2 separate regions of the Homo sapiens genome follow, and region 1 is linked to region 2. Evidence: fine-mapped QTL for protein levels in blood plasma. Region 2 holds a variant in brackets. A gene starts in the other region. All regions are shown on their forward strands.

What was found. PIP is the chance, under the fine-mapping model, that this variant and not a neighbour inherited with it causes the effect. The UK Biobank Pharma Proteomics Project read protein levels with antibody pairs (Olink). The fine-mapping took linkage between variants from a reference panel, not from the people measured, so its PIPs are less certain.
Region 1: it holds the start of EGFLAM, and the variant in region 2 is fine-mapped to the plasma level of the EGFLAM protein (UK Biobank, PIP above 0.99).

The regions. Positions count from the first base shown.
Region 1 is chr5:38,249,458-38,264,950 of GRCh38, forward strand. EGFLAM (EGF like, fibronectin type III and laminin G domains) reads left to right here and starts at 9,102. Exons shown (of 22, transcript NM_152403.4): 1 at 9,102-9,394. The coding sequence starts at 9,298. It overlaps LOC124900966 (a long non-coding RNA gene), which reads right to left and starts at 9,209. Exons shown (of 2, transcript XR_007058739.1): 1 at 9,137-9,209; 2 at 7,640-8,174. RefSeq lists an enhancer at 7,732-8,233.
Region 2 is chr19:54,281,284-54,295,971 of GRCh38, forward strand. MIR4752 (microRNA 4752) reads left to right here and starts at 826; the gene lies at 826-897. RefSeq lists an enhancer at 4,172-4,673. The variant G/A (reference allele first, on the strand shown) is at 455.

The DNA.
Region 1 (15,493 bases), not on the chromosome of region 2:
CCTGTGCTCTACCAGTTAAGCCCAGGAAACTCATGTCAGATAGGCAATGTGACTCATCTAAAGACATATAACAAGTAATAAACAAAGATTAGAAACAGGGAACATGAAAAACAGGCATACTGGATAAATTAAGAGGCACTAAAGCTAAAGGAAAATACGAATGGGCTAGCTGTTCCCAGGAGCAGCCAGGACTTAATGGTGACTCCTACCAGTTGTGGGTGTATCCTGTGTGCATTTTCCTTTCCTTAGATGGCTCGGCTGTGATTCCTATCCCAGAGAATCCCCTTCTGGTAGTTCATTATCTTTTGGGGGAGATCATTCATTGTTCCAAAATACAATCCTTGATTTTCCATTATTTCCAGTTCCTGTACAAAGTGTCTGGATCAAAGCTTCATCTTTGGCCTTAAGTCTCATGTGCCATCCAAGTAATAATCTACTAGTGCTTCTGGAGTTTAACTCTGGAGAGGACTTAGCTTGTCTCTGTGATAGATGTGACTGATGGAATGATAAAGCCAAACCACATTCAGTGACGCTCAAGGGTGTGGCATGAGCAGTCCCTTGGATTATCCTATCTGATGGGCACACCCTTTAAAGTAGATGTTACGTTTCATTGCAGGGGGGAGGAAATCAAAGCTGTTTCCTCCTTCTTAACTGTTGATCTTTGTTCATATTGTCAATTAATTTTAAAATAGGAATCTAAGCCATTCCCTCCTACTTTTTTGGATAAGGAATTTCCTTTGAAATTATTCTGTTCTTATTTCCTGGCACGAGCACTGCCATCCTGACATGCCACCCACCTTCTCCTCTGGCTTGAACCCTTCTCTCTCACACCCTTCCTTCCCTGGGACTGGGTACCAACCTAACCATAGCTAGCTAACCATAACATAGCTAACCCTAACTCAGCTACTTGTCACCTTCTTGACACCTTCTACTTGGCGACACTCACTGATCAGACTGTACTTACAAATCCTTCCATCCCCTTTGTCCTACTTCCCTCTTTAAGAAAAACGCATGGACATACATACGGGAACAGACACTGGGAACTAATAGAAGGGGCGGGGAGGCAGGAGGGTGTGGGCTGAAAAACTACCTATTGGGTACTATGTTCAGTACTGGGGTAATCATCCATACCTCAGCCGTACCTCAAACCTTAGCATCACACAAAGTACCCATTTAACAAACCGGCACACGTACCCCCGAATCTAAAATAAAAGCTGAATTTCTTTTTAAAGAAAAACACATAAAAATATCAAACTCAGACTGAAAAACTGGCCTTTTGCTTCTTTTTACAGGTTTTTTCTTGGCATCAGAAAATCTGCATTTGTTTGTACCATTGCAGAAGAAGCCAGAAACGAAGCCAGCATTTCTCTGCTTCCTACGCTCACCTCCCCACAGGAGTCTTCCCTTCCCTCCCTTCTCATGCCTGCCATTTCCGCTCTCTGGATGGACTAAATAGGGCTGGCTTGGAAACCGTGAGTCAGCTTCCTACAACCATCTCAGAGGCAAGGCATTGCTTTTGTCCTGCCATCTTTGTGTGTGTGTGTGTGTTGTGTGTTGTGTGTGTGTTGTGTGTGTGTGTTGTGTGTGTGTATTAAATGCTGCATTTTATTTTGTTTTGTTTTCATTTTCCTTTTTTGGCTAGAGACTTGCTTTCCAACCTCAAAGTTTTTCCTGATAAAAAAATTTATAAGACTCTTTTGTGTTTAACAAGTGACATCTGCCTGTCCTGGGAAAAGGAAAGCAGCTCTGTCATGAGAGTGGAGATCGTGAGCCCTGGGACAGACTGAGGCGGCATTTTATCTGACATCTTCAATTCCCAGAGGAGAAGAATAAGGGATAGAGTGGTTGATGGAATTGCTAAAGTCCCACGGACAATAGTGACAGAGATGGAACGAGAGTGCAGATCTCCTGACCTCTACTCTGTGGAGATCTCCTTGCTGCCATGTCATTTCACAAACTAGCCCTGAGTTTGAAATTGTGTGTGAGTCTCCAAAGAGATGCCTGTTAGTATGGTACGCAGTTGCATTTGGCCACTTTGGGGCTCTCTCGTTTTGTTGTGTCCTGTGTGGTTCATGGTTAGGTGGAGGTCACAGGACCCTGGAGGATCCCTGACATCTTCAAGACATGCACACGACAGGGGGTCTCCCTGTATTTTCAGGAAGACGATGGCTTCTCCATATTCCTGAAAATACAGGGAGAGACCCTGGCGTGTGCATGTCTATTTTTCTTGCTCATCCAATCTGGCAGCTCTAGACAGAACCATATAACTTGTGAGGTCTGCTTTTCATGCCCACCTCCCCCTTGGGAGTGCCAGTTTCCAGCTCTTCATCCTCTCTTTCTCCTAAGGTGTTCAGGATCTATATCTTGTCTCTTGGTTTCTCAGATTCCATCTTTCTTCCTGTCCCACCAAGCACTCCACCTAGACTGCCCTATATTCTTTTAAAATTAATTCATATTTTCTTTTGAACCCAAATAGACTTTCCTATGATTAAAAACATAAGCAGTGAAAAATAACACAATGCTAATTTTCCCCCATTCACCTCAGACACTCCAGCGCTCTTCCCACACTCATTAACACATTTGCACTGCCTAAATTTGCTGGATTCACTTTTCTCCTTGTAGCACATGAAGCTCTAAGCCCTTTTTTTTTTTTTATTTTTGAGATAGAGTTTTGCTCTATTGACTAGGCTGGAGTGCATTGGCATGATTTTGGCTTGCTGCAACCTCTGTCTCCCAGATTCAGGTGATTCTCCTGCCTCAGGCTCCCAAATAGCTGGGACTACAGGCACCTGCCACCATGCCCGACTAATTTTTATATTTTTAGTAGCGATGGAGTTTCAACATGTTGGCCAGGCTGGTCTCGAATTCCTGACCTCAAGTGATCTGCCCGCTGGGCCTCCCAAAGTGCTGGGATTACAGGCGTAAGTCACCCACTGCATCCAGCCAAAGCCCACTTTTTTTTTTAAACAGATGTAGAGTGATTTATTGCATTCCACAATTTATTTTACCAGTCTCTTCTCCAATGATGGCTACCTTTATTGCTTTCAGGGGTTTGCTATTACTAACAATCTATATCCTAGATTCTGAAAATTTTTCCTTCCCAAATTACTATTAAACTCATGTATTATTCTACTTGCTGTAGACCCTGGAGCTGCTGTCCTAAGTGACAGCTAAATGAGCTAATAAATGAGTCCCCACTGTGTTAACAGGCACAGTATTCATGAGCCCTTCCTTCCCCTTCAGGAAACATATGTCTATTTTAAGAGGGACCACCTGGATAAAAGTTCTTAAAACATTTCTCCCCCATGATTTTTGGAATAGAAGGGCTATAAGTCATAAATGAGTCATAGTTTTAACCCATGGGAGTATTTCAAACGACAGAAATTTCATGAAGATATTTGTAAAATACTTCATTAAGTGTGATATTTGGGGGCAGATTGGCTTTGTTGTAAACACATAGAGCTTCATCCAAAACACATAATGCAGGGTGGCAATCTAGAGGGCTTATCCCAGGTGAGATGTGTAGTCCTAGCTTTAGCCCTGAGCCTCAGCTTGGCTGACGCTGGCAGAGAAGATACAGCACAGAAGCCACATCCTGCAAACCACATCTCCTCCCTGTGGAGATGCAGCTGCCCATATCAAAATCAGGAGGGAGCATCAAGTTAAAAAGGCTGTGAGCACTACCTCGCATCATACATAAAAATCTATTGCAGATCTAAATGTAGAAGGTAAGCAATAAAGCTTTTCAAAGAAAAAATGGAATAATGTCTTTGTGACCTGGGGCAAGTTGCTAGCCATAAATGAAAAAAATCGATCAATCATACTACATTAAAACTAGGGTTTCTGTTCATTAAAAGTCGTCAGGAGAGTTAAAAGCCAAGACAGAGTGAAGAAAATATTACCAATATATTCAACTACAACAGAAAAACTCCTCTAAATTGTATCCTGAATATATGAAGAATTTCCACAAATCAATGAGAAATAAGTAGAAAACCCAATAGAAAAATGGGCAAAAGACATGAATAGGCACTTCACAAAATAGGATATACAACAACCAATAAAGAAGTGAAAAGGTGCTTGACTTGTTTTCAAGGAAACACAAGTTAAAACCACAATGTGGTATTATTAACATGCAACAAAATGGCTAAAATGAAAAGGACAAACAACATCAAGTGTTGGTATGATTTTTGAATGACTAGAACTCTCATATACTTTGATGGGAGTGTATATGAATATAGCCACTTTGGAAAACTGTTTGACAATACCTTCCAAACCTAAACATATGCCTATCATATAACCTCATAATTCTGCTCACAGGTATACACAGCAGATACACATACATATGTCTGCCACAGACACATACAAGAATGATCACAGCAACATCTTCGGTTGTAGTTCCAAACTAGAAACAACCCAAATGTCTATCAGGAGTAAAATGGATAAACAAATTATGATACATTTCTATAATGGAATACTACACAGCAATGAACATGAATAACCACACAACTTGGATGAATTTTTTCAAACATAATGTTGAGTAAAAGAGGAATAAGTGATTACATTACTGCATGATTCCATCTATATAAAGTTCAAAACCAGGCCAAAATAATCTAGGTGCTAGAAATCAGGAAAATGGTTACCTATTTGGTTGTAGGGTAGGTTACAGTTAGTGGGAAGAATGAAAGGCTTTTGGGGTGCTGGTATTGTTTTATTTCTTGATCTGGGGGTTTATTACACGTTTGCTTTGTCAGTGCAGTCCATTGATTACATACTTAATTATAATCAAGTATAAGCAAGGAGGACATAATGCATAGCAGATGGCTATGCATTATACAGTATCTTATTATATATGTTATCATTTGTAATACAGGGTCTTTGTCACTCAACCCAATAGCACATTATTTGCACTCTTATTTAGGGCTTCCTTTGTTCTGCTTTATGGAACAATTGACAGTGCAACTGTCTTCGTCTCCCAACAAATTTGTAGTCTTCTTGAGTGCAAAAAATATTGTTGCATTTTCTCTAATATATTATTTCTGTTCTTAGCACAGAGACTTACACATAATGGGATTCAGTCTCAATGTTTGTTTTACATTGGTGTAGGGAGAGTGTTTACTTATTTTTACTGATCTACTTTTATTTGTGTGTTTTAATTAAAGGTAAATGGGAGGTTAGAATTCTCATCCCTCATCCTTCTTCAAAAATACACACTTCTAGAGAGGAAGCATGAAGAGGGCTTTGTGGGGGTGCTGGTCATATCCTATTCCTTGATCTGGGCAGTAGTTAATAAAGTTATACAAGTGTGCTCACTTTGCTATAATTCATCAATTGGTACACTTACTATTTGATACTTTTGTATGTTGCATCTTGATTAAAATGTAACATATAAATATATGTATATTTATATTTCTAGTTTGATAAGACACTACGTTGGTGAGAGTTCACGGAATTAGTTAGGCACATATACTGCTTATTGGGGAGTAAAATAGTACAACCTCCTTGGGAGGAAATGTAGCCAAATTATCAAAATTGAAAAGGCATTTACTGTTTGACCGAGCATGGTTAGTCTAGAAATGAACCCTACAGTCTACTATAACATGTGCAACTTATTACATATTCAGTGTCATTCATGCCTGCTGTTTATAATAATTGGAAACAACAGAAGAAAGAACAAATAAATTACATATCACATGTAGAATATTATTCAGCAGTTAGTAAGAAGGAGGCAGATCTGTATCTGCTGATTTGGAAGGATCATCAGGTTAAGAAGTACGTAGAAGATGCTCTTGGTTGCGTTAAATATATGTGTATATAATTAGCTTGTCCATTCATAGACCATCTCTAGAAGGATATCCAAGAAACTGGTGATGGTAGAAGGAAGAAAAGGAAACTTATTTTTCACTATACACTCTGCCTGATCTGCATTTCAAATTTTACATGTAGATATAACCAATTTAGAAAAATAAATCAAAAGATGATTCTTGGCTGCTGCCTCTTTGTCACTCTCATTTAGAGTCTTAATAAACATTCTATAATTGATAAGTTTGCCTTTACTTTCTTCTACCAGCCTCCAAATCTATTCCATGCAGCAAAGGTCAGATTCCTCTTCCATGATAATGAGCAAAGTAGGCAGGTCACTCTTCTGCTGGTGACCTTATTAATTGAGTTTAGACCTCCAGTGAATTTGAACAGATTTTTTTTTTTTTAATGAAACATTCAAAGCCTCTTGGCCCCTCTTTAGTTCCCCTCCTCTCAGAAAGCAGGAAGAGAGTGAAAGGCAAGTGTTCTATTTGTCTTTAGTCAGATTTACAAATGCCATAGTTGGTTTTCAAACTGGAAGGAGAGGGAATCTTCCAGTTCCCTTGGAGGATGCGATTTGAACTGCAAAGGAAGGGAATAAGTTTAATGTAACATGTGCTCTAGATTTGAAGCAGATTTTGTGAAATAAGGTCTTATCTCAATGGCCTGATGATCCAGAGTGTTTGCAGGCCCTCAGAGGTAAAAATACAACAGTATAATCTAATGTTGTTTTTCCCCAAGGAAAAAACAAGAGGGGTCTCTGAAGAAACCAAGCCTATTTCCCAAATCGCCTATGGTCATCTGCAAAAAAATGGAAGGGAGGCCCAGGGCCAGGGATGCCGAGGTGGTGTGGGCACATGAGGAGGACATTGGCAAGAAGGCTGCCCAGGCTTGCGAAATTTGCAGTGGACAATTTGCACAGGGTCTGTTAAAAGGCACATGCAGAGTAAAGGTAGCTTAGATTAGATGATGCTGTTTTATCAGCTATTAAAGAGAAAGCAAAACCTGGAATTTACTGATTGTTTCGTCCAGCCCATTCATTTTTACCAAGGCACACTATACGCAGAGCCTAGGATTAAACACCCACATCTCCCGATCCTCTCAGTCCACTGCTGTGTTTACTTTCCACATTGTTCTCTCAAAAGCCTGAAAGCTGGAATCAGACCCCTTGGATTCAAGCGCTGCATGGGAGCTGCATGACCTTGGGCAAGTTTCTTAACCTTCCCATGCTTCAGGTTCCTCACCTGTAAAAGGCGAGAATAGTAATGACAGTATCTTCCTGGTATGGTTGTTATTGGGATTAAAATGCACTTCAAAGAAGGTCTGGTACATAGGAGACCTTAAATAAATGGTAGCCATAATATCAACGATTATTATTACTTCCAGTTTCAGCATCACAGAGAATCATTTTTAAGTAGGAAAGCCTGCATGGGAGGCATCTGCATTGCAACACTCGCTTGGTTCTGGGTGCCACATTAAGTCCGAGATAAGAAATCACTTTCGCATAAAGAAAGGCCTCTAACAACTTCTCAGCTGGCGCTGGAGGAGCTCTCTCACACAGGTGGAGTTCAAAGGGAGGTGGCACGACCCGACACCAATGCTGAAAGCAGACTCCTGCGTGGAGTGGAGGCATGGCCTAGATGACCTTTAAAATGCTAAAAAGTCTATGATTTTGAGACCTTTGAGACTAGCAGCCTTGGGGGCAGTCACTTTGCTTAGCTTAGTGGCCGGCTTTATGGTCACCTTGGACGTGAAGAGCATAGTTCTGTCTGAACTTTGCTCCAGTTCTATGTAAGAGGACAAGCTCTGGTGTCACAGCTAAAACTTCCAAATACTCAAGTTGGAGGGGACTTTGAATTTATTTGTGAACAGACAATTGCACACTTGAAAATGCCAACACATAAGGGAACACACTCAGCTTTGCTAACTAACAAGATTGAGCTCATTACAAACTCTCCAGCCAGGGGATATTTCATTCTTAAAAGAGGAGTAGAAATCCTGTGTGTGTGTGTTTGGGGGGCTGGGGAGGGGAGAAGAATATATCAGTCAACATTGTTTCCTCCCGCGCTCCCAAACATAGGCTAACTGTGAAGAGCCAGGACGCCCACCGAGTCCTGGCAGCGTTGCAAGGTGGGGAGGGGGCGGGCGCGGTCCTGTCGCTAGTGACTGCAGATTTCCTCTGCGGGGCACTTCCTACGGCCTTTGATCTTTCCCCAGGAACTGCCGAGGGCCGCGTTTGCCTCTAAGTTTATTCCCTCTTGGTTTATTTATTGTATCTGCTTTCTCTTCTCGCTGGTTTGGAGGTCAGAACGCCAGTATGCAACGGGACTTGTGTCCCAGGCAGGGTCTCCCCTCTCCAGGCACTACCGCGAAATCTGGCAAAAGGTACATTTTACTGAGTCCTAGGGCAGCAAATTCAGCGGCGGAGAAAGAGTCTTTCTCCATTCAGGAGACAACCCAGGAAGCCCGATCCCGGGATCAGAGGCCAGGACCCCGCCCCGGCCCCCTGCCCCAGGCCCAGCTGGGCGCCGCCCAGGGGCTTTTCTCGGTCCGCCTGGGGGCTCGAGCTCGCGTCCCTCCCTAAGACGCCAGGCTTAACTTGGAGTTTCATCTCCTCCCCAGGAGGGTCTCAAGTTGCCTTCCTCTGCCGGGAAGGGCCCCCACTCCCCCGCTCCAGGCCCTAATCTCCACCCGGCGTCCCAGTCTGAGCGGCCTGGCCTCAGCTCTCCATCTGCGAGCCTTAAATCCCATTTATCTTCTTAGCGCCTCAGACCCGGACGGTCCCGCCTCTCTTCCTCTCACCCCCACCCCACTTGCAAATCACAGACCCCCGTCTACCCCTCGCATCCCCCAAGTGCGCTGGACCAACTACAGCAACCTTTGAGGTGTTAGAAAAAGTCGCCTAGAGGGGCGCGGCAGGAGGAGGGCCCAGGTGGGGTGGAGGGGGGGCGCCCCAAGATTTCAGGGTGAGGACCGCGGAGGGTCCTGGACCCGCAGTCGCCTAACTCCTGCCCTGCGTCTCCAGTGCTTGAAGTCGGTCCCTCCCAGGTCCCCAATCTAGGTCACCAGCGGGGAAGGGCTGCGCTGGGGGTCGCTAGAGAGGGTGAGGGGCGGGCTGTCTGCTTCCGAGGTGGGCGAGGAGTGAAGGTTTCAGGGCCTGTCCCTCTCACTTCCACTCGATTGTAATTTCATCCCCGGGCCGGTCGAGCCTCCCTCCCTCCCGCGGCCAGCCCTTCCCTCCCAGTCGGCCTCCTTCGTCGCCCCCGCCCCCGCGAAAAGCCCTGCAGCTTGCAGCCGGCTTCACTCGCGCACGCCGACCTCCCGGCTGCAGTCCTACCTCTTGGAACTACCCGTGTTTCCGGGCCCAGCCCTCGCAGCCCCCCACCTCCTCGCCCCGGCCCGGGGATCCGTTGGGGCCGCGTCCCCCACGCGCCCCCGGAGACGCCCTTTCCGTGTGCGCCCGGGACTTGGTGAAACTTTGCAGGCGCCGGCTGCGAAATGGATTTAATCCGAGGCGTCTTGCTCCGGCTCCTGCTCCTGGCTTCCAGCCTCGGACCCGGCGCGGTGTCGCTCCGAGCGGCCATCCGAAAACCAGGTAATGCGCTCCTCCGCCCAGAGCCACCACGCCCCGAGCGCCCCTGCTGGGCTCCGGGGCGAGGACACAGAGCGGGCAGCGCACCGCCTCCCTCTCCCCGACCAACGTCTGCTTAACTCGCTTCAGCTCTGCCAGGAGCTGAGAAAAGACGCAAACCTCGCCCTCCCCCGAGCCCGGGCGGCGCTAGGGATATTTATTTATTAAAAGAATGATCAATTTTCCAGACATAGTAGATAGAGGTGGTGGTCCCCGTGTTTGACCGCAGAGAGCTGACAGTTGGGACAGCGATCGTGCTGTCTCAATTACAGAGGATGGCAACCATGCAGAGGAGTCAAACCAGCCCCTCCTGCGTCTCCAAACATTTTACTCAATTCATATTGTCCAGAGCCCAGCCATTTCCTGTTAAGTGTCTGAAGGGTTGCCTGGAGCCCCCTCTGCCCATCTCGGGTCCTGCCCACGCGTTGTGCAGGGATGTGGACTCTGCTCTTAGCATCCTCTTCCACTCTGGGGCCATTTGTTCAGAAGGAAGCACCCAGTGGGTTAATTTTACCGTGTTTTGAACTCCTGTCTTTGCTTTGGCATTTAAACAAAGAAATGTACGTTGTAACCTGTTATAAGGGACTGGGAATTGGGGGAGAACTTGAAACCATAATAACGTGTGTTTCCTCTAGCTGCATATAGGTAAAAAGTCTTCGTTTATTTTGGTCTACTTTGATTTGGCCTATGCTGTGAGATTATTCAAAGTAGAACATTCTGAACAATGAAGTTCTAAACATTGTTTCCCAAATAACGATTTTTATTACTTTTTGCTGGGACCATATTTAGAATTCTGAAAAATCTGTTTTGTCTTAACTTACTTTGTAAGGGAGGTTGTCTTATGGGATTAATTATATCTTATGAACAATGGAAAACAATATTACTTTTATTTGAATGCAGTCTGCAAAACCTCACAGAAAGTGCAGTTTGTCTTCACAAACGTTTCTGTAAGAAAGAGGCAAAGCTAGGAAAATTTATCAGAGGGCAGAGAAAATCGTCTTAGCGGGATCCCATGTGAATGCTTAAATATTTTCGCATTGAAACTCTCTATCTGGAAATATGACTTGTTGCATTTCGGCTCTGGAAGCGTCCTCAGTCTTTGCACTGTGTCTCTTATTACCAGCACTTGTTACCTGCCTTGAAATCTAAGGTCATTATCATAATCTACACCATATTTAAATTATGAGCCACTCCATTTATGAGCTCTTCAATTCATTTTGGAGATAATAGCTTCAGTCCAAGGTAATATCACATTAAATTGTTTCTCTTCCTGCACGCACACATACATATACCTTCAAGGATTTCAGTGAAGGGCTTCTTTCTAACTTTCCTCCTTAAGATAACCACATCACGATCAATTGCATTTTGCAGATTTATTCACATGAAATCATCTATTAATTGTCACAATTTTTAAACAAAGCATAGTTATATCTATAGTTTTAAAGCATGAACAGTGTATGCAATGCTTTTTAAAGGATATATTTTAATCCATTTAAGGGGAATTTTTAAAAAGCATTTTATAAAAACCTGTTGTATAAAACTGCTCATGTGGGTCATCATATTTTCCTTCTTATTTTTTGGAGTTCTTCTCCTAAAAAGATTTTCTACCTGGTTCATTCAGGGTCTCATTCTGATATTCATGCCAGGAATATGCCATGCTGGCCTCTTTGGTTTTATTTGAAGCATAGATAGGGTTTTGATAGTGGAAACACCACCTCTTAAATACTTTGGCATATTAATTACATCAAATTTGAGATAGAAGTGTTTAGACTAGGTTCAACCTAGAAGAGTTTTATTTTTATTACTTTATAATTTTATCCAGACACTAGCTTTCAGGTTGGAAAGCTTCTCAGATTAAAATGACAGCTACTTCATAACTTCAGGGGAAATTTCCCTCCTGGGCTCATTTACATCCCTTGGAAAGACTAGTTTTTGATCCGGAAAATTGGTCCAGATTAAAAAACTGAATGTGCCCTGCTTGGCTCTGATGTGAGCAGCAACTAGCTAATTTATAATCTTCCCCAGACACTAGCAAATCCTGCTAGTATCCATATGGGAGTTTCTTTGTACCTTGTTTCCTCAACAGAAATTGGTACATAGACAGTACTTTGAAGGTATCGTGGCCACGGTGCAGGCATACTGGAGCGGTTCTGTCTTATTTGGATGACCCTCCCTATCTCCTCATACTCCTAAATCTACTTTTGATAAGTATAGCATTGTTGGAGAAGTCTTGGATTCAAAATCAACCTGGAAATTCCCCATCCGCACCTACCTCTGGTGAGAAAAAACTGAGTAGCAGCTTCAAGTCTGAGTCTAGTTTGGGTTCAACACAAGCAACCTTTCTCTTCACCCCAAGATAGCTCATCTTTTGACATTGAACATTAATAAAGAAACCTCTGCATTTGCCAAGACTTACAAGAAATGACAGTTTTCAAATTAAGTGAAATTAAATCATAATAACTAACACTAAGTGCTTGCTACACTGTTCTAAGAACTGGATGCACAGTGATTTATTTAATCAACCCAATAGCCCTGGGAGATGGGGACTATTATTATCACTGTTTTACTGAAGGAGAAATTGTGGCTTAGAGAGGTTAAATATCTCATCCAAGGTCACACAACTAGTAAGCGGTGGAATGGAAATTTAAACTCTGATATTCAGGACCAGAAACTGAGCTCAGAACACTGTGTTTGCAGAGGTGTGTAGCATGTCTTGTAGGGTGTCTTCCTGGAGGCTGAAGAGTGGAGCTCCCGTGGGTCAGATATTGGAGCCTAGGTGGAGGCTGCTGTTTTGTGTGGGGATCCTGCGTTGCTCTTAAACATTTGTAAATGGGATCTGCCCATGCCTGCTAAGACAACAGAGTGCATATGATACTGAAAGAATTTTGGAAGCTACTGTCTACTGGCCTCATTTATAAGAATCACAGGGTGTGGCCTTATGGGGTGATGATGAACCACTTGCTTCTCTTGTTGAACTCCTGGGGATTAAGGCTGGTGAGGGTCAGAGGGCCCACTACAGTACCTGAGGGTAGAAAAAGGGGCCTCTGAAGAATGGGAGGGTTTAGGGCCCTGTCCTTTCCCCAGACCTTCACGGTGTGGACACACCACTCATTGGATAGCCTTCATTCCTTTTCAGACTACAAATTAGAATCATAGGCCTGGAAAGAAGTGAAAAGTCCTCATTTTGCAATGAGGTTGAGGGTGACTCAGTAACTTGCCCCAGTTAACATCAGAAGCTGAACTGGAACTGGCACCTGGACCTCCCACCCTCCTGAGTGGTCTCTAGCCTAGTGCTGGTCCCATCACCTGAGTCTCACCAGAAAGTGCGGGAGGACTGCCGTGCTTCTGTGGTGGGGCAGGAAGAAGGGAGGGGAAATCCAGACAACTGCGGGAACCAGCATGCAACAAGTCACTTAATTCCCGCAGGCATATTGCTAACTCTTGTCCTTATTATCATTTTAAAGTCAGATTTATTGAGGTATAATTTATATGCAATAAATTTCATCAAGTCTACAGTTTGATGAGCCCTAACAAACATACACAGTAATGTAATCACCGCCGGAATAGAAATATATAGAACATTTCCATCATCCTTAAATATTACCTTGTGTCCCTTTGTAGAAAAATGACTCCCTCCCAGCCCCTGGTAATCACTGATCTAACTTCTATCCCTGTAGTTTTGCCTCTTCCAGAATGTCATATTTTGTGTCCACCCTCTGTCGCATAATGCTTTTAAGATCCATCCATGTTTTTGCATATATTGGAAGTTTGTTCCTTTCTTATTGTTGAGTAGTGGTGCGTTGGATGGACCATGGAATTCCAGTTTGTTTAACCATTTGCTAGTTGGTGGACTTTTAAGTTGTTTTCAGTTTTAGGCTATTATGAATAAAGTTCCTAGACACGTGCACGTAGAAGTCTTTGGAAGATATATGTTTCCATTTCTCTTGATAAACAGAAGGAGTGGGATCACTGCATCACATGGCAGGTATATGTTGAGCTGGATAAGAAATCACCAAACTGTTTTCCAAAGTGGCTGTACCATCTTACATTCATACAATGTACGAATGTTCTAGCTGCTCCTAATCCTCTACAACACTTGGTAGAGTTTTTTTTTGGTTTTGTTTTAGTGATTCTATTCTAATAAGCATGTAATAGTATGTCATCACAGTTTTAGTTTGCATTTCTCTAATGACTAATTATATTGAACATTTAAAAAATTTATTTATTTGCCATCTTTTCTTTGGTGAAATCTTTGTTTAAATGTTTGGCTGATTTTTAAAACTTGGGATGTTTGCCGGGCATGGTGGCCCATGCCTGTAATCCCAGCACTTTGGAAGGCCAAGGTGGGCAGATCACTTGAAGCCAGGCGTTTGAGACCAGCCTGGCCAACATGGCAAAACCCCAGCTCTACAAAAAATACAAAAATTAGCCGGGCTTGGTGGCGCGTGCCTGTAGTCTCAGCTACTTGGGAGGCTGAGGCACGAGAATCACTTTACCCTCAGAGAGGGAGGTTACCATGAGCCAAGATCGCACCACTGCACTCCACCCTGGGTGACAGAGGAAGACTCTGTCTCAAAAAAAAGAAACAAAAAACATTGGGATGTTTATTTTCTTATGATTGAATTTTGAGTGTTTTTTGTATGTTCTGGATGCAAGTCCTTTATGAGATCTGTGTTTTGTAAATCTCGGCTTCTAGTATGTGGCTTGTCTTTTTATTTTCTTAATGGTGTCTTTCAAAATGTAGAAGATTTACATTTTGATAAAGTCTAATTTATCATTTTCTTAAATGGCTCGTGCTGTTTTTTTGAAAGCTTAACCCGTGGCTGCAAAGATGTTTCCCTATGTTTTATTGCAGAAGTTTTTTAGGTTTTACATTTAGGTCTATAATTCATTTTGAGTTAATTTTGTATGAGGTGTGAGATATAAGTCAAGGTTTATTTGCTTTTGTATGGATATCTTGGCTTTATTTTCTAAGCACTCTTATGCTTGGTGGTGGGAGGTGGTACATCAGAGGCAAAGGGATCTCCAGCTTGGAAGGCTTGCTGTAGCTCTCAAGCTACAGTGGCTGTGCCATTAAGACCTCCTCATTCCTATGCAGTAGATAGGGTATAGATCGTTTGTCTCTCTACAAGGTTCTGTCAGTGAAGTCAGACTTAGGGCTGACAGCCGTGGCATGTCTGGGAAGGATTCCTGGGGTTAAAGACCGGTGCTCCCAGGCTTAGAGCCTGGGGTTGCTCTTTGTTTATTTAGACAAGTCTCCTGACATTTATTAACTCTCTGGCACTAGGGGGGCTGGAGAACTGCACATGGGTCCTGCCTTTCCTCCTGCCTGTCCAGTTTGCCTGAGGTCCCAGGGTCAGTCGAAGAAGGTCAAGTCAGCGTTCAGAGTTCAAGGTTTTCCCTGGAGTATCTGGGTGTCCATAATCATCCTTAGCACGATGCAGCTCTCTCATCTTTTTCTTTCCACTTTGTCAGTATTTCTCTAGTGGTATAATCAAACTAAAATAAAGATGTAAGGAAAGTCAGGAAGCAAAAACAAAAGGCTGGAAGAGAAGGGTTAGCTTGTGGGCAATACATCTTGTTGGTTGCTGGTAGAGATACATGCACCTCTAGAGGCATTCTGCTGCTGCTAGTGTGAGGCTGAATGGCTAAGGGGCAGTGGCCAGGGATCAGGGGTCATCCTGGTCTACTTCCCCAGTGCCACCTTGATCTACCTGGAATTCACAAGAGACTGGTTAGTTCCTCACTTATAGCTCTCATCCAAGCCCTCTTCCCAAAGCATGGCAATTGGGGGAGATCTCTCATCTGTATGTTCCTTCCTGTCCCCTTTCCAGTCCACTGTACTCCATATCCCAGTGCTGATTCAGGCTGTCTCATTTATCAGGGAAATCTTTAGCTCACAAAAGCCGTGGGGCACTAGAAGCTAGGTGCTAGGGACCTAGCACACTCATCCCCAGCACCCAACTCCTAGCGCCCCACGCAATTCAGGCAGACAGAAATGTTTTCCTCTGATTCTTCACTCCATCACTGTGCTTCCCCTCCTATTGGTTTCAACATCTTATC
Region 2 (14,688 bases):
CGTCCTTAGCCGTCCCTCTGCACCTCAATTCCTGGTCAACATTTTGGGAACAATGACTTATGTTTGAGCTTTGATTTGGGGAGTGGGGGAGGGAGTTGATATTTATTTGATGACTGGTTATCATCCGCTGCCTACGTGACCTTGGTTTGTAATGTCCCATCACTGAGCCTCAGTTTCTTCCTTTGCAGATTGTTGTCATGAATCCCACTCGTCACAGTGGTTGTGGGGTCAGTGGTGCCTGGGACATTGGGAGGGGCTCATTTGTGCTTGATTTCCAGACCAGGGTAAGACCTGAGGCTTTGGGACGTGAGAGGATCTTGCTGTTGGACTCCACATTCTGTAGGTGATTGATGAGTCCACTCAAGATGTCACATCTGACCGTAATGGAGAAACGTATGTGTAGCATTTCTGAAATACCCAGAGTATCAAGGTCATGAGCAGAAAAAGACATGTG[G/A]AAACCCCAAGTGTAGACGGACTCACAAGAAAGAACAGAGGCCAGAGGTGAGATGCCACAGGGTCCCGGGACCATCAAGGGCTCATTAGGGTGGAGGTTTCCACCACTGAGTGGAGCCGGGAGAGGAACCCCGGGATCTGCAATGACAGTGAGGGGCTCAGGGCTCCAGACCAAGGTGGGAGGCTGCGTCCTCTAGCTACACCTGAGGCTGGAGTGGACCCCAAGCAGCCCAGGGGAATTCCCTCAAGGGAGTGCACCAAACTGTCCAGACCTGCTGGAATTCCAAGGAAAGAAGCACTAAACACCAGGGTGTTCATAGAGCATTTATTAGGGGGACCTCTGCACAGTGGGGCATCCTTGTCTTCTTGCCCAGTGTCTCCTTGTGGATCTCAAGGATGTGCTTCCACATAGCAGCATGTTCTTCAGATGGACAAGGAGACACTGGGTATTCTATCCAAAGCTTTAACCTAAAATAAAAACAAAACCAAAAATAAACCCCTAGAAAATATGATCTCTCAGTACAGTTGTTTCTTGGGATACACAGGCAATTCGTTTCAGTACCCCCTACATGTACCAACACTTGCTCGTACTCCAGCCCTGACGTTGTCTCTGCTGGGTCTGCATATAGGAAAAGTCTGCCGTTCATATACGCAAGTCTTGTTTCTCACAAATGCTATAGTTTTGATCCCCGTTTGTTTGGAAAAAGTGTGCATATAAGAGACCCCTGGAATTCAAGGCTGCATTGCTCCAGGGTTGCCTGGATTTTGAGTTTATTTGGGAGTGAGAAGCAAGGATTACAATATGGAGTGCATGGCATGGCAAGCCACAGTGTGTCCAGAGAGGGAAGTGTGATGTTGTGATATATGCTGGTTTTCACCCGCAGTTCCTGGCTTGTAACTCCCATAGCCCTTGTTATAGTCTTTTGTTATAACATTGGCTGTGCTGGGCCTCAGGGGAGGCCTCTGACCTCCTCCTGCCCTTCCTTCACCTAACCCAAAGTAAGACTCGAATGTTCCCTGCCTTTCTGATAGTGGATCTTAAGACCCTCCCAGAAGACAGTCTCACCCTGTTCCTTGTGGGAGGAAATGCTGATGTCATGAAGCTTTCATAAAAGCCCCAGAGGACTGGGTTTCATGAGTTTCTGGGTGGCTGAGCATGCTAAGGCTCCTGGAGGGCGACGCCCAGGGAGGGTATGGAAGCCCCGGGCCTCTTCCCCCATGCCTCCTCCTATGAGTTTCTTCATCTGTGTCCTCTGCAGTGTGCTTTGTATTCAACCAGGAAATGTCAGTGTTTCCTGAGTTCTGTGAGCTGCTACAGCAAATTAATCAAACCCAAAGAGTGGGGCATGGGATCCCCAACTTGAAGCCAGTCAGTCAGAAGTTCTGGAGGTCTGGACTTGGGAATGGTGTTGGGGGCAGTTTTGGGGAATGGGCCTTCAATCTGTGGGATCCGGGACTGTCTCTGGGTAGACAGCACCAGAGCTGACTTAGAGGACACCCAGCTGCTGTTCGCTACTGCGTCTGGGGAAAAAAACCCCATACATCTGGTCCTAGAAGTCTTTTTCTGTGTTGATGATTCCTGTGACGTGAGAGTAGAGGAAAAGCACCGTAGAGAGAGCTCTCTGTACATAGAGAGGTAAAGGAAGTTCTTATCAGCAACAAGGGAGAGCCTGACAGAGCTGCCTGGAAACAGAGTTCCCTGGTTCCACAGGTTCAAAGCCAGAGTTGCTGTCAGTCCATTGGAGGAGATGCTGTTGCTGGTCAATGGTTCTCTTGAGAGCATCTTATCTGAATTCCTGACGTCCTAAAGAACATCTAGTGATAAACCTTGTCAAAGCAGAAGGGGCTGAAGGACATGGAAGAGTTTCTTATGGGTTTTTTAAAAGTCCTTAGAAACAGTTCTTATCTGAGACGTGGAAGCATGGGCCTCCTCTCCTTCAGGCCTTCCTGGCCCTGTGGGGTCTGAGTTTGACCAAAGTCATCTCATCCTTGCACCTGTAACTTTTCTATTGGGAGTCTGCAGTGAAGGGATGGGGTTACGAAGTTTAACCTGAGAGTTTCAGGAATTTGGTTCAGGGGAGGGCTTGTTTCTACACTTTTAGCAAAAGGGTTAATTTTTCAGTGTTTTCTAGAAACAACCTAAAGTGCTTTATCAGTACTTGGGGATGCTCAAGACCTCAGCTTGGGTTCCAGCCTGCAGGTGGAAACATGCATCTGTCCAACCCACAGAACAGTCATGGCCCTTTGTCTCACTCTCAGAACAAGGAAAAAAGTGGAGGAAACTGTGGGACCTTAGAGACTGTGACTCCCCCTCTTCTGTGTTTGTGGACAGACCCTGGGATGACTCAGTGACCCGGGCTACACTCAGCACTGAGCCACCTTCCCGGGTGTGCATGACACAGATGCGCTTTATCATTGTTGGACCGGGCATCTCTGACCCTGGAGTGTGAGGCTCACATGGACCCCGCCATGCCGGGCATAACACAGAGGTGATTCTAAGCTTGGGAGCATGGACACCGCAGGGCAGGAGCGGCTACAGCAATGCCCTCATCAGCTTTCCTTCCTGAGTCAGCCTGGGGAGAAACCCTATATGGAAGATCAGGTGTGTGGGAGAAAAACCCACCCCAGAGGAATAAAAATCAAAGAGTCCGTTAGAGAAAAAACAGGCAATTGTAGAAATGAATTAGGAAGCTATTGTGATGTGAAAATAGTAAATTATATTAACACATTTAGAAATAATTTCATCCAGAACAAGACACAGCTGAAATGATAAACATTGTATTGGTGTAGAATATTTACTAAAATTTTTCATTAGTCATCAGAGAAAAACTAGAAATGAAAAAAATAGAAAAGATAATTAATGCACACAAGAAATGGAATGAAAAGAGGAAACAGATATCTCTCTTTGGATCACACTTTCAGAATGAAGGAAATAAGGAGTATGTTATTCAGTAAATACTTGCAAAGAAAATGGTTGACATTTTTATAGAAATGAAGAAAGAACATGAGTTTAACGTGAACAAATTCATAAATAACATCAATGTCTTAACTATGATAGAGTAAAAGATACCTAGAATAGATACAAAGTAATTTTAAAACTACTGGAGAAAATGAAAATTATTGTCCAATGAAAGACAAGCACATTGGGACTGGATTTCCCAAGAGTAAAAAGTGCAAGAAAATGACTGGGGGCTGAGGTTCAAGTTGGCTGAATGGAAAGGGCTGGAGTCTGCCTACTCACTAAGAGGACCCAAAATAGCGAGTAAATACCAACAGGTCAAGTGGATCTTCCAAGAGGATGCTGGGGTTCACCTGAGAAACATGAGGACATGGAGAGAAGAGAAGAGAAAAGGTGGGAGCCAGGAGAGGCTCCTAACACGGGGAAGGGGTGAGTGAGTGAGAGATTCACCAACACGGGGAAGGGGTGAGTGAGTGAGAGATTCCCCAACACGGGGAAGGGGTGAGTGAGTGAGAGGATCCCTAACACGGGGAAGGTGTGAGTGAGTGAGAGGATCCCTAACACGGGGAAGGGGTGAATGAGTGAGAGCCTCCCTAACACAGGGAAGGGGTGAGTGAGTGAGGGGTCCCTGGCATCTACACCTCTGCTGTGGGCCCTTAGGATCCTGCCCACAGGAGAGCGCCTGTCCCCTCTGGGCCTCCAGAGGCCCACAGTTTGCTCCTGGAGACTGTACCAAGGCCCCACTGGAGCCCACGTGGAATCCCACAGGCTTCTGATCCCTGAGCAGCCTGGGTCCAGCTGCCACTGCCTTAGCAGGGAGGGAGGAGGCCAGGCACCTCTGTGGGCCCCAGAATAAGTATGACAGCTGGGGCACAGGAGCAGCCAAGCTGAGCACCACACAGCTGCCCACCTCTGTTGCTTCCTGCGAAATGGGGCTTCCTTCCTGCTAATGGGGCTTGCCAGCTGCAGGGCCCCAGTCACCCGTCCTGCCCCCACCCGAACACCGTGGCCCTGGCTCGGTGCCCTCTGAAAGCCCAATGCTCAGAGGCCCCTGACAAGCCCTTTGCAGTCACTGCCACCTCTGCCTCTGCCCCTGCTGCCCCAGGCCCAGGGAGGGTGTGGGGAGGCCTGGCACTTTCACGTGTCCCCAGAGCAAAACCGAGTGACACTTCTTCAGGAGGGAAGTGTGAGCGGGCCCTGTGCCTCACAGCTGCCAGTCTCCAGTGCCCCAGCCGAGGGGCGCTGCCCTCCCTAGTGACAGGCCCACAGCACAGCCACCCTGCCCCCACCTGGACATTTCAGCTGCAGCCCCCAGCCCTTCTGAGAGCCCAGTCCCCACAGGCCTGTGATCTGCCGCAGGCTCTACCACCTGAGCCTTCTGCCTGCCCCGCCTGAAGGTTCTGCCGGTGACCTGGGGACCAGCCCATCCCTCCCCATCACAGCCAGCATCTGAACCCCGGAGCAGCCGAAACCCAGTCCAGCCCCTTCAGGACTCACACACGCTGTCCAGCCGGCCACCTAGGGGCCTGTGATCCGGGAACTACCTGCCCTTTCCTACCTGCTGGCACCTGACCACTCACCCCAGGGCCTGAGGTCGGGCCCACCCAGCCAGCAACACCACCACAACTGACGTCCACTCTCCCATCCAGAGAGGCAGAAGCCCCACATCCCACCTACATGAAGCAGCTACCGCGTCAGACAACAGACAGCCGCTCAGGGTCTGCACTGGGCTGAGGGAGGAGGCTCTGCCTTGGAACCACGCCTGCAGAGAGTGGCAAGGCAGGTGTTTCCCACTGCCCTCAGCCACACTGTGGCCTGGGGAGAGACAAGAGTGTGTGTCTGAACTGAGACTCATGAGCCCTGGAGCACGGGTGTGATAGGGAGACAGACAACGTTCCTCCCTATGGGACTGGAAACGGTGTAGCTCCTTCACTCCCCGCAGAGACCTCAGGGCATTTCACTAGGAGCTGCTCCAGCCATGTCCATCAGGACTAGTGCCTGCACTCATCACTGGGATATCTGTGGGCAAGCCGGGGGTTCCAGCTCTGCCCAGGGGTGTTCCCTCGCCCCTGTGGAACAGGAAGCTCAGGGCACCTGACACTCCACGGTCCAGCCCTTCCCCTGAAACAAGAGTCAGCACCTCACAGGAAACACACCAGGTCCACATCCACCTGCTTGTGCCGAGCGTGGCTCTTACCCTTAAGCACCAGCTCCTGGCCTGCAATCTGAGCTGCACAGCCCAATGCAAACCCTGCTGCAGAAGCTCCCAAAGCCATGGGAAAAGCCAAAAGACCCTTCCCAACATGCTCTACAGTCACCCTCCCTGCGGGGCTGGGGGAAAATGTGCAAAAGAAATCCCATCCAAACGAAAATAAATTCGAAGAGAGTAAGTGGAGGCCTCTCCAGATGAGAAGGAATCAGTGTAAGGATTCTGACGCCGTGAAAAATCTGAATATTGTGGCACCACCAAAGGATCGCACTGGCTCGCTAGTGATGGATGCTGAAAACAATGGAAACTCTGAAAGGACAGATAAAGAATGAGACTGACACAAAAACATTACAAAGAATCAATGAAAGAAAACGTTGGTTTTTTGAAAGTATAAATAAAATTGAGAGATGGCTGACTACACTAACCAAAAAAAGGAGATTTAAATAAGCACAATCAGAAATGATAAAGTTGACATTACAACCAACACCACAGAGATACAAAAGATCATCAGAGACTACTATGAACACCTTTATGCACATAAACTAGAAAACCTGGAGAAAATAGATGAATTCCTAGACACACACAACTTCCCAAGATTGCACAGGCAAAAAATAGAAACTCTAAACAGACCGATAACAACCAATGAAAAAGGATCAGTACTAAAAATCTTCCAGCAAAAAAGTCCAGGAACAGATGGATTCGCAGTTGAACTTAGCTGTATGTACGAAGGAGGGCTGGTACCAATCATACTGAAAGTATTCCAAAAATCAAGGAAGTGGGATTCTTTGCCAGCTCATTTTACAAAATCAGTATCATCCTGATAGCAAAATCAGACAAGGATCCAACAGAAAAATAAAACTACAGGCCAAGAAATCTGAGGAACACAGATGCAAAAATCCTCAAGAAAATACTAGCAAACGGAATCTAACAGTGTATCAAAAACATAATTCATCATGATCAAGTTGGCTTGATTCCAGGGAAGAAAGGATGGTTCAATATATGCAAGTCAATAAAAGTGACTCATGACATGAACTAAGAACAAAAAGCATATGATCATCTCTATAGATGCAGATAAAGCTTTCAAGAAAGTCCAACATCGCTTCGTGATAAAATCCCTCAACAGGCTAGGCATGAAAGAAACATACCGCAAAATACCAACACCCCCTGCGTGACAAACCCACAGCCAACATCAAATTGAATGGGGAGAAGTGAAAACATTTTCCCAGGAAAATGAGAATGGGATCCTCCCTAGCCCCTGGGGTCTCCTACTGGACCAGGGCCTATCTGTGGGGCAGGGTCCCTCTCATGCTAGAATCTCCCTTTCCCCTCGTCAAATCTCAGTGAAGTGGACCATGGCCATGGGAGTGACAGTCATGGCACAGAGAGGCAGGGCTCTCCTGTAGCAGGACGAGCCGCAGACAAAACTCCTCAGACACCGGATTAAAGAAGGAAGAGGTTTTTATTCAGCTGGGAGCGTGGGCAGACTCGCGTCTTAAGAGCCGAACTCCCCGAAAAAGAAATTCTTGGCCTTTTTAAAGGCTTATAACTTTAAGGGGTCCACGTGAAAGGGTCGTGATACATCAAGCAAGCGTGGGAAACATGACTGTGGGGGGCTATATGCATCAGCTAACAGAACAAAAAGTTTTACAGTGCTTTTTTCATGCAGTGTCTGGAATTTACAGATAACACCAGTAGTTTAGGTCAGGGGTTGATGTTATTATTATTACTTTTTTTAACTCCTACGGCCGGGTGGTGGTGCCAAGGTTGTCTGGCTATTTATCTTACTTTTGTATTTTTCCAACTTTTGGCTTTTTCTCTCTTCCTGTTTTGTGAACTAGGCAAGGTGGGGGGAGGAGGGCAGCAGGAGTAGTAGTGGTCTCCTTCCTTACTCCCACTTACAGGATTTTCCCACCAGCATCTCCATGGGTGGTGAGCTGTCCCGGACCCCGCTGGCTCATGTTTTCCCAGGACTTGGCCTTTCTCGAATGCTTTATCTGCATCGCTTGAGATTATCACATGCTTTTTGTTCTTAGTTTATGTCGTGAGTCACCTTTATTGACTTGCATATATTGAACCATCCTTTGAGACAGGCACCAGGCTTTCTGCTGATATTTCAGACACGCATGGCATCTCTCCTGATCTCCTTTCACTGTCTGCCTGACATGTCCTCGTCTCATTGAGGGCCGGGACGTAGCTGCAAATGGACGTGGTGCCTTCCTGAGTTGGTCCCTTCCAGGTGAAGGCAACGGAGGGTTCTTCCTTCCTCTCAGAGACTCCTCGTGGGGTTTCCCTCTCTCCTTCAGCTCACCCATAAACACACCCTTGTGGGGAACCTACCATGGCCAGTCTTCTCACCAGTCCTGGGGAAGCTTCAGGGAAGATGCAAATTCAGGCTGCGGGGCAGACTCACATCAGCAGAGACTCATCTCGCATCTTGCTGTGCAGTTCCAGTTGAGCTTTATTGTGGCGATGAACAGAAAAGGGAAATACATGGAGACAAGGGAAGGAATCATGACTCTTTCCCCAGAACTGGAGTGTGGGTTTTCTTTATGCAAAAACGTTCCCTTCACGAACTTCTCATTCACTCATCGCAACAGCATCTGCCCCCGTCTCCCTGGAAACAACATTGACCTGACTCTGCCTTCTTGGTGCCCCTGTCTTCTTTCAAACACTCCTGTTCCCATCCTGTGCTCCTGAGTTCAAGGTTCTGGGACAATACGTGGGGTTAGCACTCTGCTTTGAGGGGAAATCTTGTCTTTATTTAAATATTCATGTGTCACCCCCTGCCTGTGTGACCTTGGGCAGTAACCTCCCATTTCTGAGCCTCGGTTTCCTCATTTGGAGCCTGTGATGAACCCCATTTATCACAGGGGAGCTGGGTCATTGGAGCCTGGGGACTGCAGGGGGCTCAGCCATGGGTAATTTCCAGAGCAGGTGAAGACAGGAGGGGTGGGGGCATGAAGGGATGCTGGCGCCCACCATCAAGGCCTGAGATTGATGTTTCCACTAAGGAGAGCCCCTTTGTTCCTGCCCTTGAGAGATGCTTCTCATAATATTTCATCAACACCCCCGTTATCACAGTCATGTCCAGAAAATGAGAAATGAAAGCTTGTCAGAAGGAGAAGCGCCTGCATTAAAGAGAAAATTAAAACTGACAGAGCATTTGTGTCTGGTGCCATTGGGGTCTTCAGGGAGGAAGTAATTAAGTCACTAGTGTGCATACATTTAAGCATGAAATGCAAATCTTTTTTTTTTTTTTTTCGAGACAGAGTCTCACTCTGTCGCCCAGGCTGGAGTGCAGTGGCACAATCTCAGCTCACCGCAACCTCCACCTCCCGCGTTCAAACGATTCTCCTGTCTCAGCCTCCCGAGTAGCTGGCACTACAAGCACGCACCACCACACCCGGCTAATTTTTGTATTTTTAGTAAAGATGGGGCTTCACCACGTTGGCCAGGCTGGTCTCAAACTCCTGCCCTCACCTGATCCGCCTGCCTCCGCCTCCCAAAGTGCTGGGATTACAGGGGTGGGCCACCGCGCCTGGCCAAAATGCAAATCTTGACCTCTCATGATAAACTGAAAAATAGGAGTAAATTAAAAAATACATATGCTAGACTGAATTATGTAATTTAAAATGCATTTTTGTGTTTTGTGATTTTCAACTCAACATGTCAATAGCATTGCTTCTCAGTGGGACTGGACTTCCCGATAGTAAAAAGATAAGGGAAGGAGATGCTAAGAGAGTACTCTCAGGGGACTAACTGCAAGTGAGGAATTCTATACTTACTCAGGTTAATACCTGAAAGGTAAAGGGGTCAGCAGGGGACCAATTCCTAAACAGAAGAAGGCTCAGGGCAAGACGGACCTGTGAAGCTGTCTGGTTGGGCTTCCCCTTCGTGAGGGCTGAGGAGGGATTGGAGGGTGGATCTCTCAAATCATCAGATGTGCTTTCTCTTCCAGGTGTTATACTTACCCTTTAACTAATACAGAAATGTTTTCATCTATTTTGATAGAGAGAGTGGGAGGAAAAAGAAGGCATTTTCTGAGCTGCAAGTTACTAGATATTACTGTTTTCATGCTCAGTGAAGGCAATTTTAAATGATATCATCCAGTTGGAAGATCAATGAATCCGGCCGGGCGCGGTGGCTCACGCCTGTAATCCCAGCACTTTGGGAGGCCGAGGAGGGCGGATCACGAGGTCAGGAGATCGAGACCATCCTGGCTAACACGGTGAAACCCCCGTCTCTACTAAAAATACAAAAAAATTAGCTGGGCGTGGTGGTGGGCGCCTATAGTCCCAGCTACTCGGGAGGCTGAGGCAGGAGAATGGTGTGAACCTGGGAGGCGGAGCTTGCAGTGAGCGCAGATTGTGCCACTGCACTCCAGCCTGGGCGACAGAGCAAGACTCCGTCTCAAAAAAAAAAAAAAAAAAGAATCAATGAATCCAAAATGTAGAATATGAGATGCCACAGTGATGTAAGTGAGAAACAGGCAAGTATTTGAAAATCACACACAGACATGCCCACATGAATGCAACCACACACGGGCACACATGTATGAGTCAGTGTGCATGTACACATGTGAGTACTCAGAGTTCAGCTACAGTGGAATTAGAACGTGTCTTCTCTAAAGGCAAGGATAAATGAATCCTCATTCGAAAATATATAATTGAGTGAATACTTAACTAAATAGGTGAAGTTATTCCAAATTTTTCTTTTTTTTTAATCCTGTATGTAAAAGAGTAATTCATCCACTGAAGGATAAGTTAAATAGCCCAGTACCCCAATCACACCTAGGCATGAAACACAATAGTACCATCTAAAATGAAATGATAATTTACAATCAGTAAGTGAAGAAAGGTATACTAGTAAAATATCTATTGGAAATATTAATATTCAACAAAATGTAACATAATCCAAAAAGTTTTAGAAATAAAAACTAAAATTTTGTGTTTTAATGAAGTTGTAAGGGCTGGGCATGAAGGGATTTGCAGGCTGAGCGGGGAGGATCACTTGAGCCCAGGAGTTCAAGACCAGCCAGGGCAAATAGTGAGACTCATCTTTATTTATTTTTTTAAAAAAAGAAGGTATTAAAGATGACTGGGAAAAATCACTGTATGAAAAACCGAGGAAGAAGGAATTAGGGCTCCCGAATGGGGTGAAGACCCACATGCAGAATGTCTCTGAGCCCTGAGAGTGGAGCAGTGTGTTCAGGATCCTGAGCCTGTGGAACCAACATTCTCTGAGATGTGAGTCTATGGAATGTGTGTTATAAGACCTGCCTTTTGTTAGTATAATCCAGCAAAAGCCCATGGGCGAGGACCCAGTTTTATTTTAGGGAATGTGGGGACAGTATATTTTCTATTTGTGTTTATGCAAATTTCATATTGCTGATCAGTCATGCAGAAGGCGGAGGTCAGTGTGTTCACAGGATTCGTACCCGAGAGTCTGGAGACACATGTGGGGGTCCATGGGAAAGGCTGGTGGCCGGGTATGGTGGGAAGGTAATCAGCGACAGATGCCAGAGTCTCCTGCTTGATCTTGCCGAAATCTGGCTCAAATGTTTGGCCTGGCACAACCAAACTAGAACTTGGAAGACGCTGTATAGGTAAAACATAATATTGTAATCATTCATATTCTGTTAAGGCTTTGAAAATGTCCTTAATAAGATTTCTTTATCCTGGAAGGTAGATGGCAAATGATAACATTTCTTTATTCTAGAGGGTAGATGGCAAACGATAAGATTTCTTTATTCTAGAGGTTAGATGGTGAATGATATGATTTCTTTATTCTAGAGGGTAGATGGTGAATGATAACATTTCTCTATTCTAGAGGGTAGATGGTGAATGATAAGATGTCTTTATTCTAGAGGGTAACTGGCGAACGATAAGATTTCTTTACTCTAGAGGGTAGACGGCAAATGATAAGATTTGTTTACTCTAGAGGGTAGATGGTGAATGATAAGATTTCTTTATTCTAGAGAGTAGATTGTGAATATTTGGTCCTTCATGTTTTCTCAGGATCCTCCCTCCAAACATTCTATCCTATACAGCAAAGCTTTACATCCTTCAAACACAACAGTCGTCTTGGACCTAGATATGTTGAACTCTTTAATGCTAGGACTCAAGTCCTCTTGCTGTTTGGGACAATTCAGAAAAGAATCAGCCCCAGTCATTTTGCATACTTCTGTCTGACTGTCATAGGTGAGTAGAAAGAAACAGCTCAACTGCTTGACAAGATTCATCGACCTGAGGTCTTGTCTGCAGCTGGATTTCTATCCTACTTCCGTGATTTTCCTTTCGTGGATCACCAACACACTGCAAATGCCTATCATTGCTTTTGACGTGGTGTACTTTGGTTCTGCCTGGAAAGGCAGGAAGTCTCGAAGTGAGGAGCTCACAGGTCAAAGGAGATTGAAATGTTTTCAGACAGAATAGGCAAATCCGTAGAGACAGAAAGCACACTTGTGGTTAGCAGGTGCTGGAGGGAAGAGGGAATGGGGAGTGGCTGCTGAATGGGTGTAGGATGATGACAATGTGTGGAACAGGATGGCAGTGATGGTTACACAGTGATCTGAGGAGAAGATACACAGGTAGCATCTGAGAAGGAGGGAAGGGCTTGTAGGGTTTGGAGAGGGTGTCAGGGCATCAGGGTGGATTTATCTTTTCCTGGTTGAAATCTGATACTCTCCCATTGATTTAGTTACTGAAGCACGTTTGGAACTCTGAACTGAAGAGATGGAGGCTCAATAAAGCACACCAGGGAGTATGGCAATGAGGAATAAAGAAGACTGTGTTACACACCATGGACCAGAGCACACAGATGTGCAGAGGTGTGGATCCAGCCCTGCCATGTGGGATGTAGCCTCATGTCTAGGGGTGGGAAAAGAAGGGGATCCAACCAAGGGAAGTCAACATTAATAGAGAGGAAAGGTATCACATGTTAATGGTCCTCCATGGATCACCCTGCAAAATATCTCTGCAATCCAACACTGATTCCTCCTTCTAGAAATTATCAGCAGACAGTCCAGATAGCATTGGCCCTAAATTGTCTCCCGGAACCTCCTGGGATCACCATATCTATTCCCAAGGTTTCACCACTCTGAGAGATGCATTGTCCTCTCTGCTGTTCACCTCCTAGCTGCATCTTAGGGGCTTCTCTGGCTGTGCTGAGCCTCAAATAACAGAATCCTGAGGACCACCAGGATCAAGCCAGCCTTGCCCATGTGGATGAGATTCTCCACTGTGTAATCCTGGGGGTGTGAGGTTGGGGATGGTGGGCAAAGAGACCACAGAGGTCAGGGCAGATCAACATCACCCAGGACCTCTGGATGTCCACCCAGGGCACCCACCTCCCCTTCACAGGACCTGACCCTCTGTGCCAGCCCCATAACTGAAAGCATCTCCTCACGCACCAGTCTTGGGGTCTGAATTGTTTTGTGATGGGCTGAGGGTATCAGCTGCTCCTGAGAATCAAAGCAAAGGAGAAGTACCCTGAGCCAGCCTCTCCCATGGGCTCGGCATTCTTATCTTCCCCTGTCTCCTGACATGAGTTCTAAGGAGTTCCTTAGTAAACTCTTCCTCTGTAGCAGTGTTCGTTCCGTTCTTCTTAATGAATTATTTCAGCTTTCCTGCTTTCTACAAATCCAAATGTTGCTCTTGAGTCATTTGGGGGAGAGTTTTCCTTCACCCTGAGGGCTCAGGATCTGCAAGGAAAGTGGTCCCCAGTACAGAGGTCACTGAGCCCTGTGTGCTGTCTGTGCAGCCTGGGACACGGGAGCACATGAGCCAATTCCCCCGGAGATGAGAGTTTCACGGATCCACCAGCTGAGGACCCAGGCTCCCTGGATGAGGGGTTGGTCCTCAGGGGCTCCCGAATGTCAGAAGCACAAAGCGGTGAAAGTCTGGGGCTGCCTCCCCTTCACCTGGGTTTTCATTGTCCAATTAATCTAATTAACTAATTCTTCATATAATCAGGAAAACCTAGAATGATGTGATACCTTCCCCCCGGCCCCCATCCAAAAATATCTGTCTGCTAAATAGTGGTGCTATTAGAGGTTCATAAATCAGTATTTCTGCTTTTACAAAGTGTGAATCTAGGTGAATCTAGACCAGTAACAAACATGTAAACTCCTACCACATCAAATGTCTTATTTATTTATTTATTATTTTTATTATTTATTTATTTATTTATTGAGGCAGAGTCTTGCTCTGTTGCTCAGGCTGGAGTGCAGTGGTGTGATCTCGGCTCACTGCAAGCTCCGTCTCCTGGGTTCAAGCAATTCTCCTGCCCCAGCATCCCGAGTAGCTGGGATTACAGGTGCACGCCGCCACGCCCAGCTACTTTTTTTGTATCTTTAGTAGAGATGGCGGTTTCACCATGTTGGCCAGGCTGGTGTCGAACTCCTGACCTCATGATCCTCCCACCTCGGCCTCCCAAAGTGCTGAGATTGTAGGCATGAGCCACTGTGCCCGGCCTATTTTTATTTTTATTGAGATGGAGTCTCACTCTGTCGCACAGGTTGGAGTGCAGTGGCACTATCTCGGTTCATTGCAACCTCTGCCGCCCGGGTTCAAGTGATTCTTGTGCTTCAGCCTCCCTAGTATCTGGGACTACAGGGCCGCACCACCATGCCTGGCTAATTTTTTTTTGTATTTTTAGTAGAGATGGGCTTTTACCATGTTGGCCAGGCTGGTATCAAACTCCTGACCTCAGGTGATCTGCCCGCCTTGGCCTCCCAAAGTGCTGGGATTACAGGCATGAGTCACTGCGCCTGGCCATCAAATATATTAAGAATATGGATATATTTATCAAGTGAACTTGGAAATACTTACACACATATTCAAATGTAACTTATATAACCACACATAAATATGTATAGATGTAAAACTTTAGATATTTAAGATGTAGTTACATACATATTGATATTTGAAGTGAGAAATATTGGCAAGCAATATAGAAATAAGTAAAATCTCCATTGTCTCATGGTTTGTATACATTTCATCAGGAAATTAGAGGAGATCCATAGAAAAGCAATTAGAATGGGGTAATTTGGTAGTGAGTTAGCATG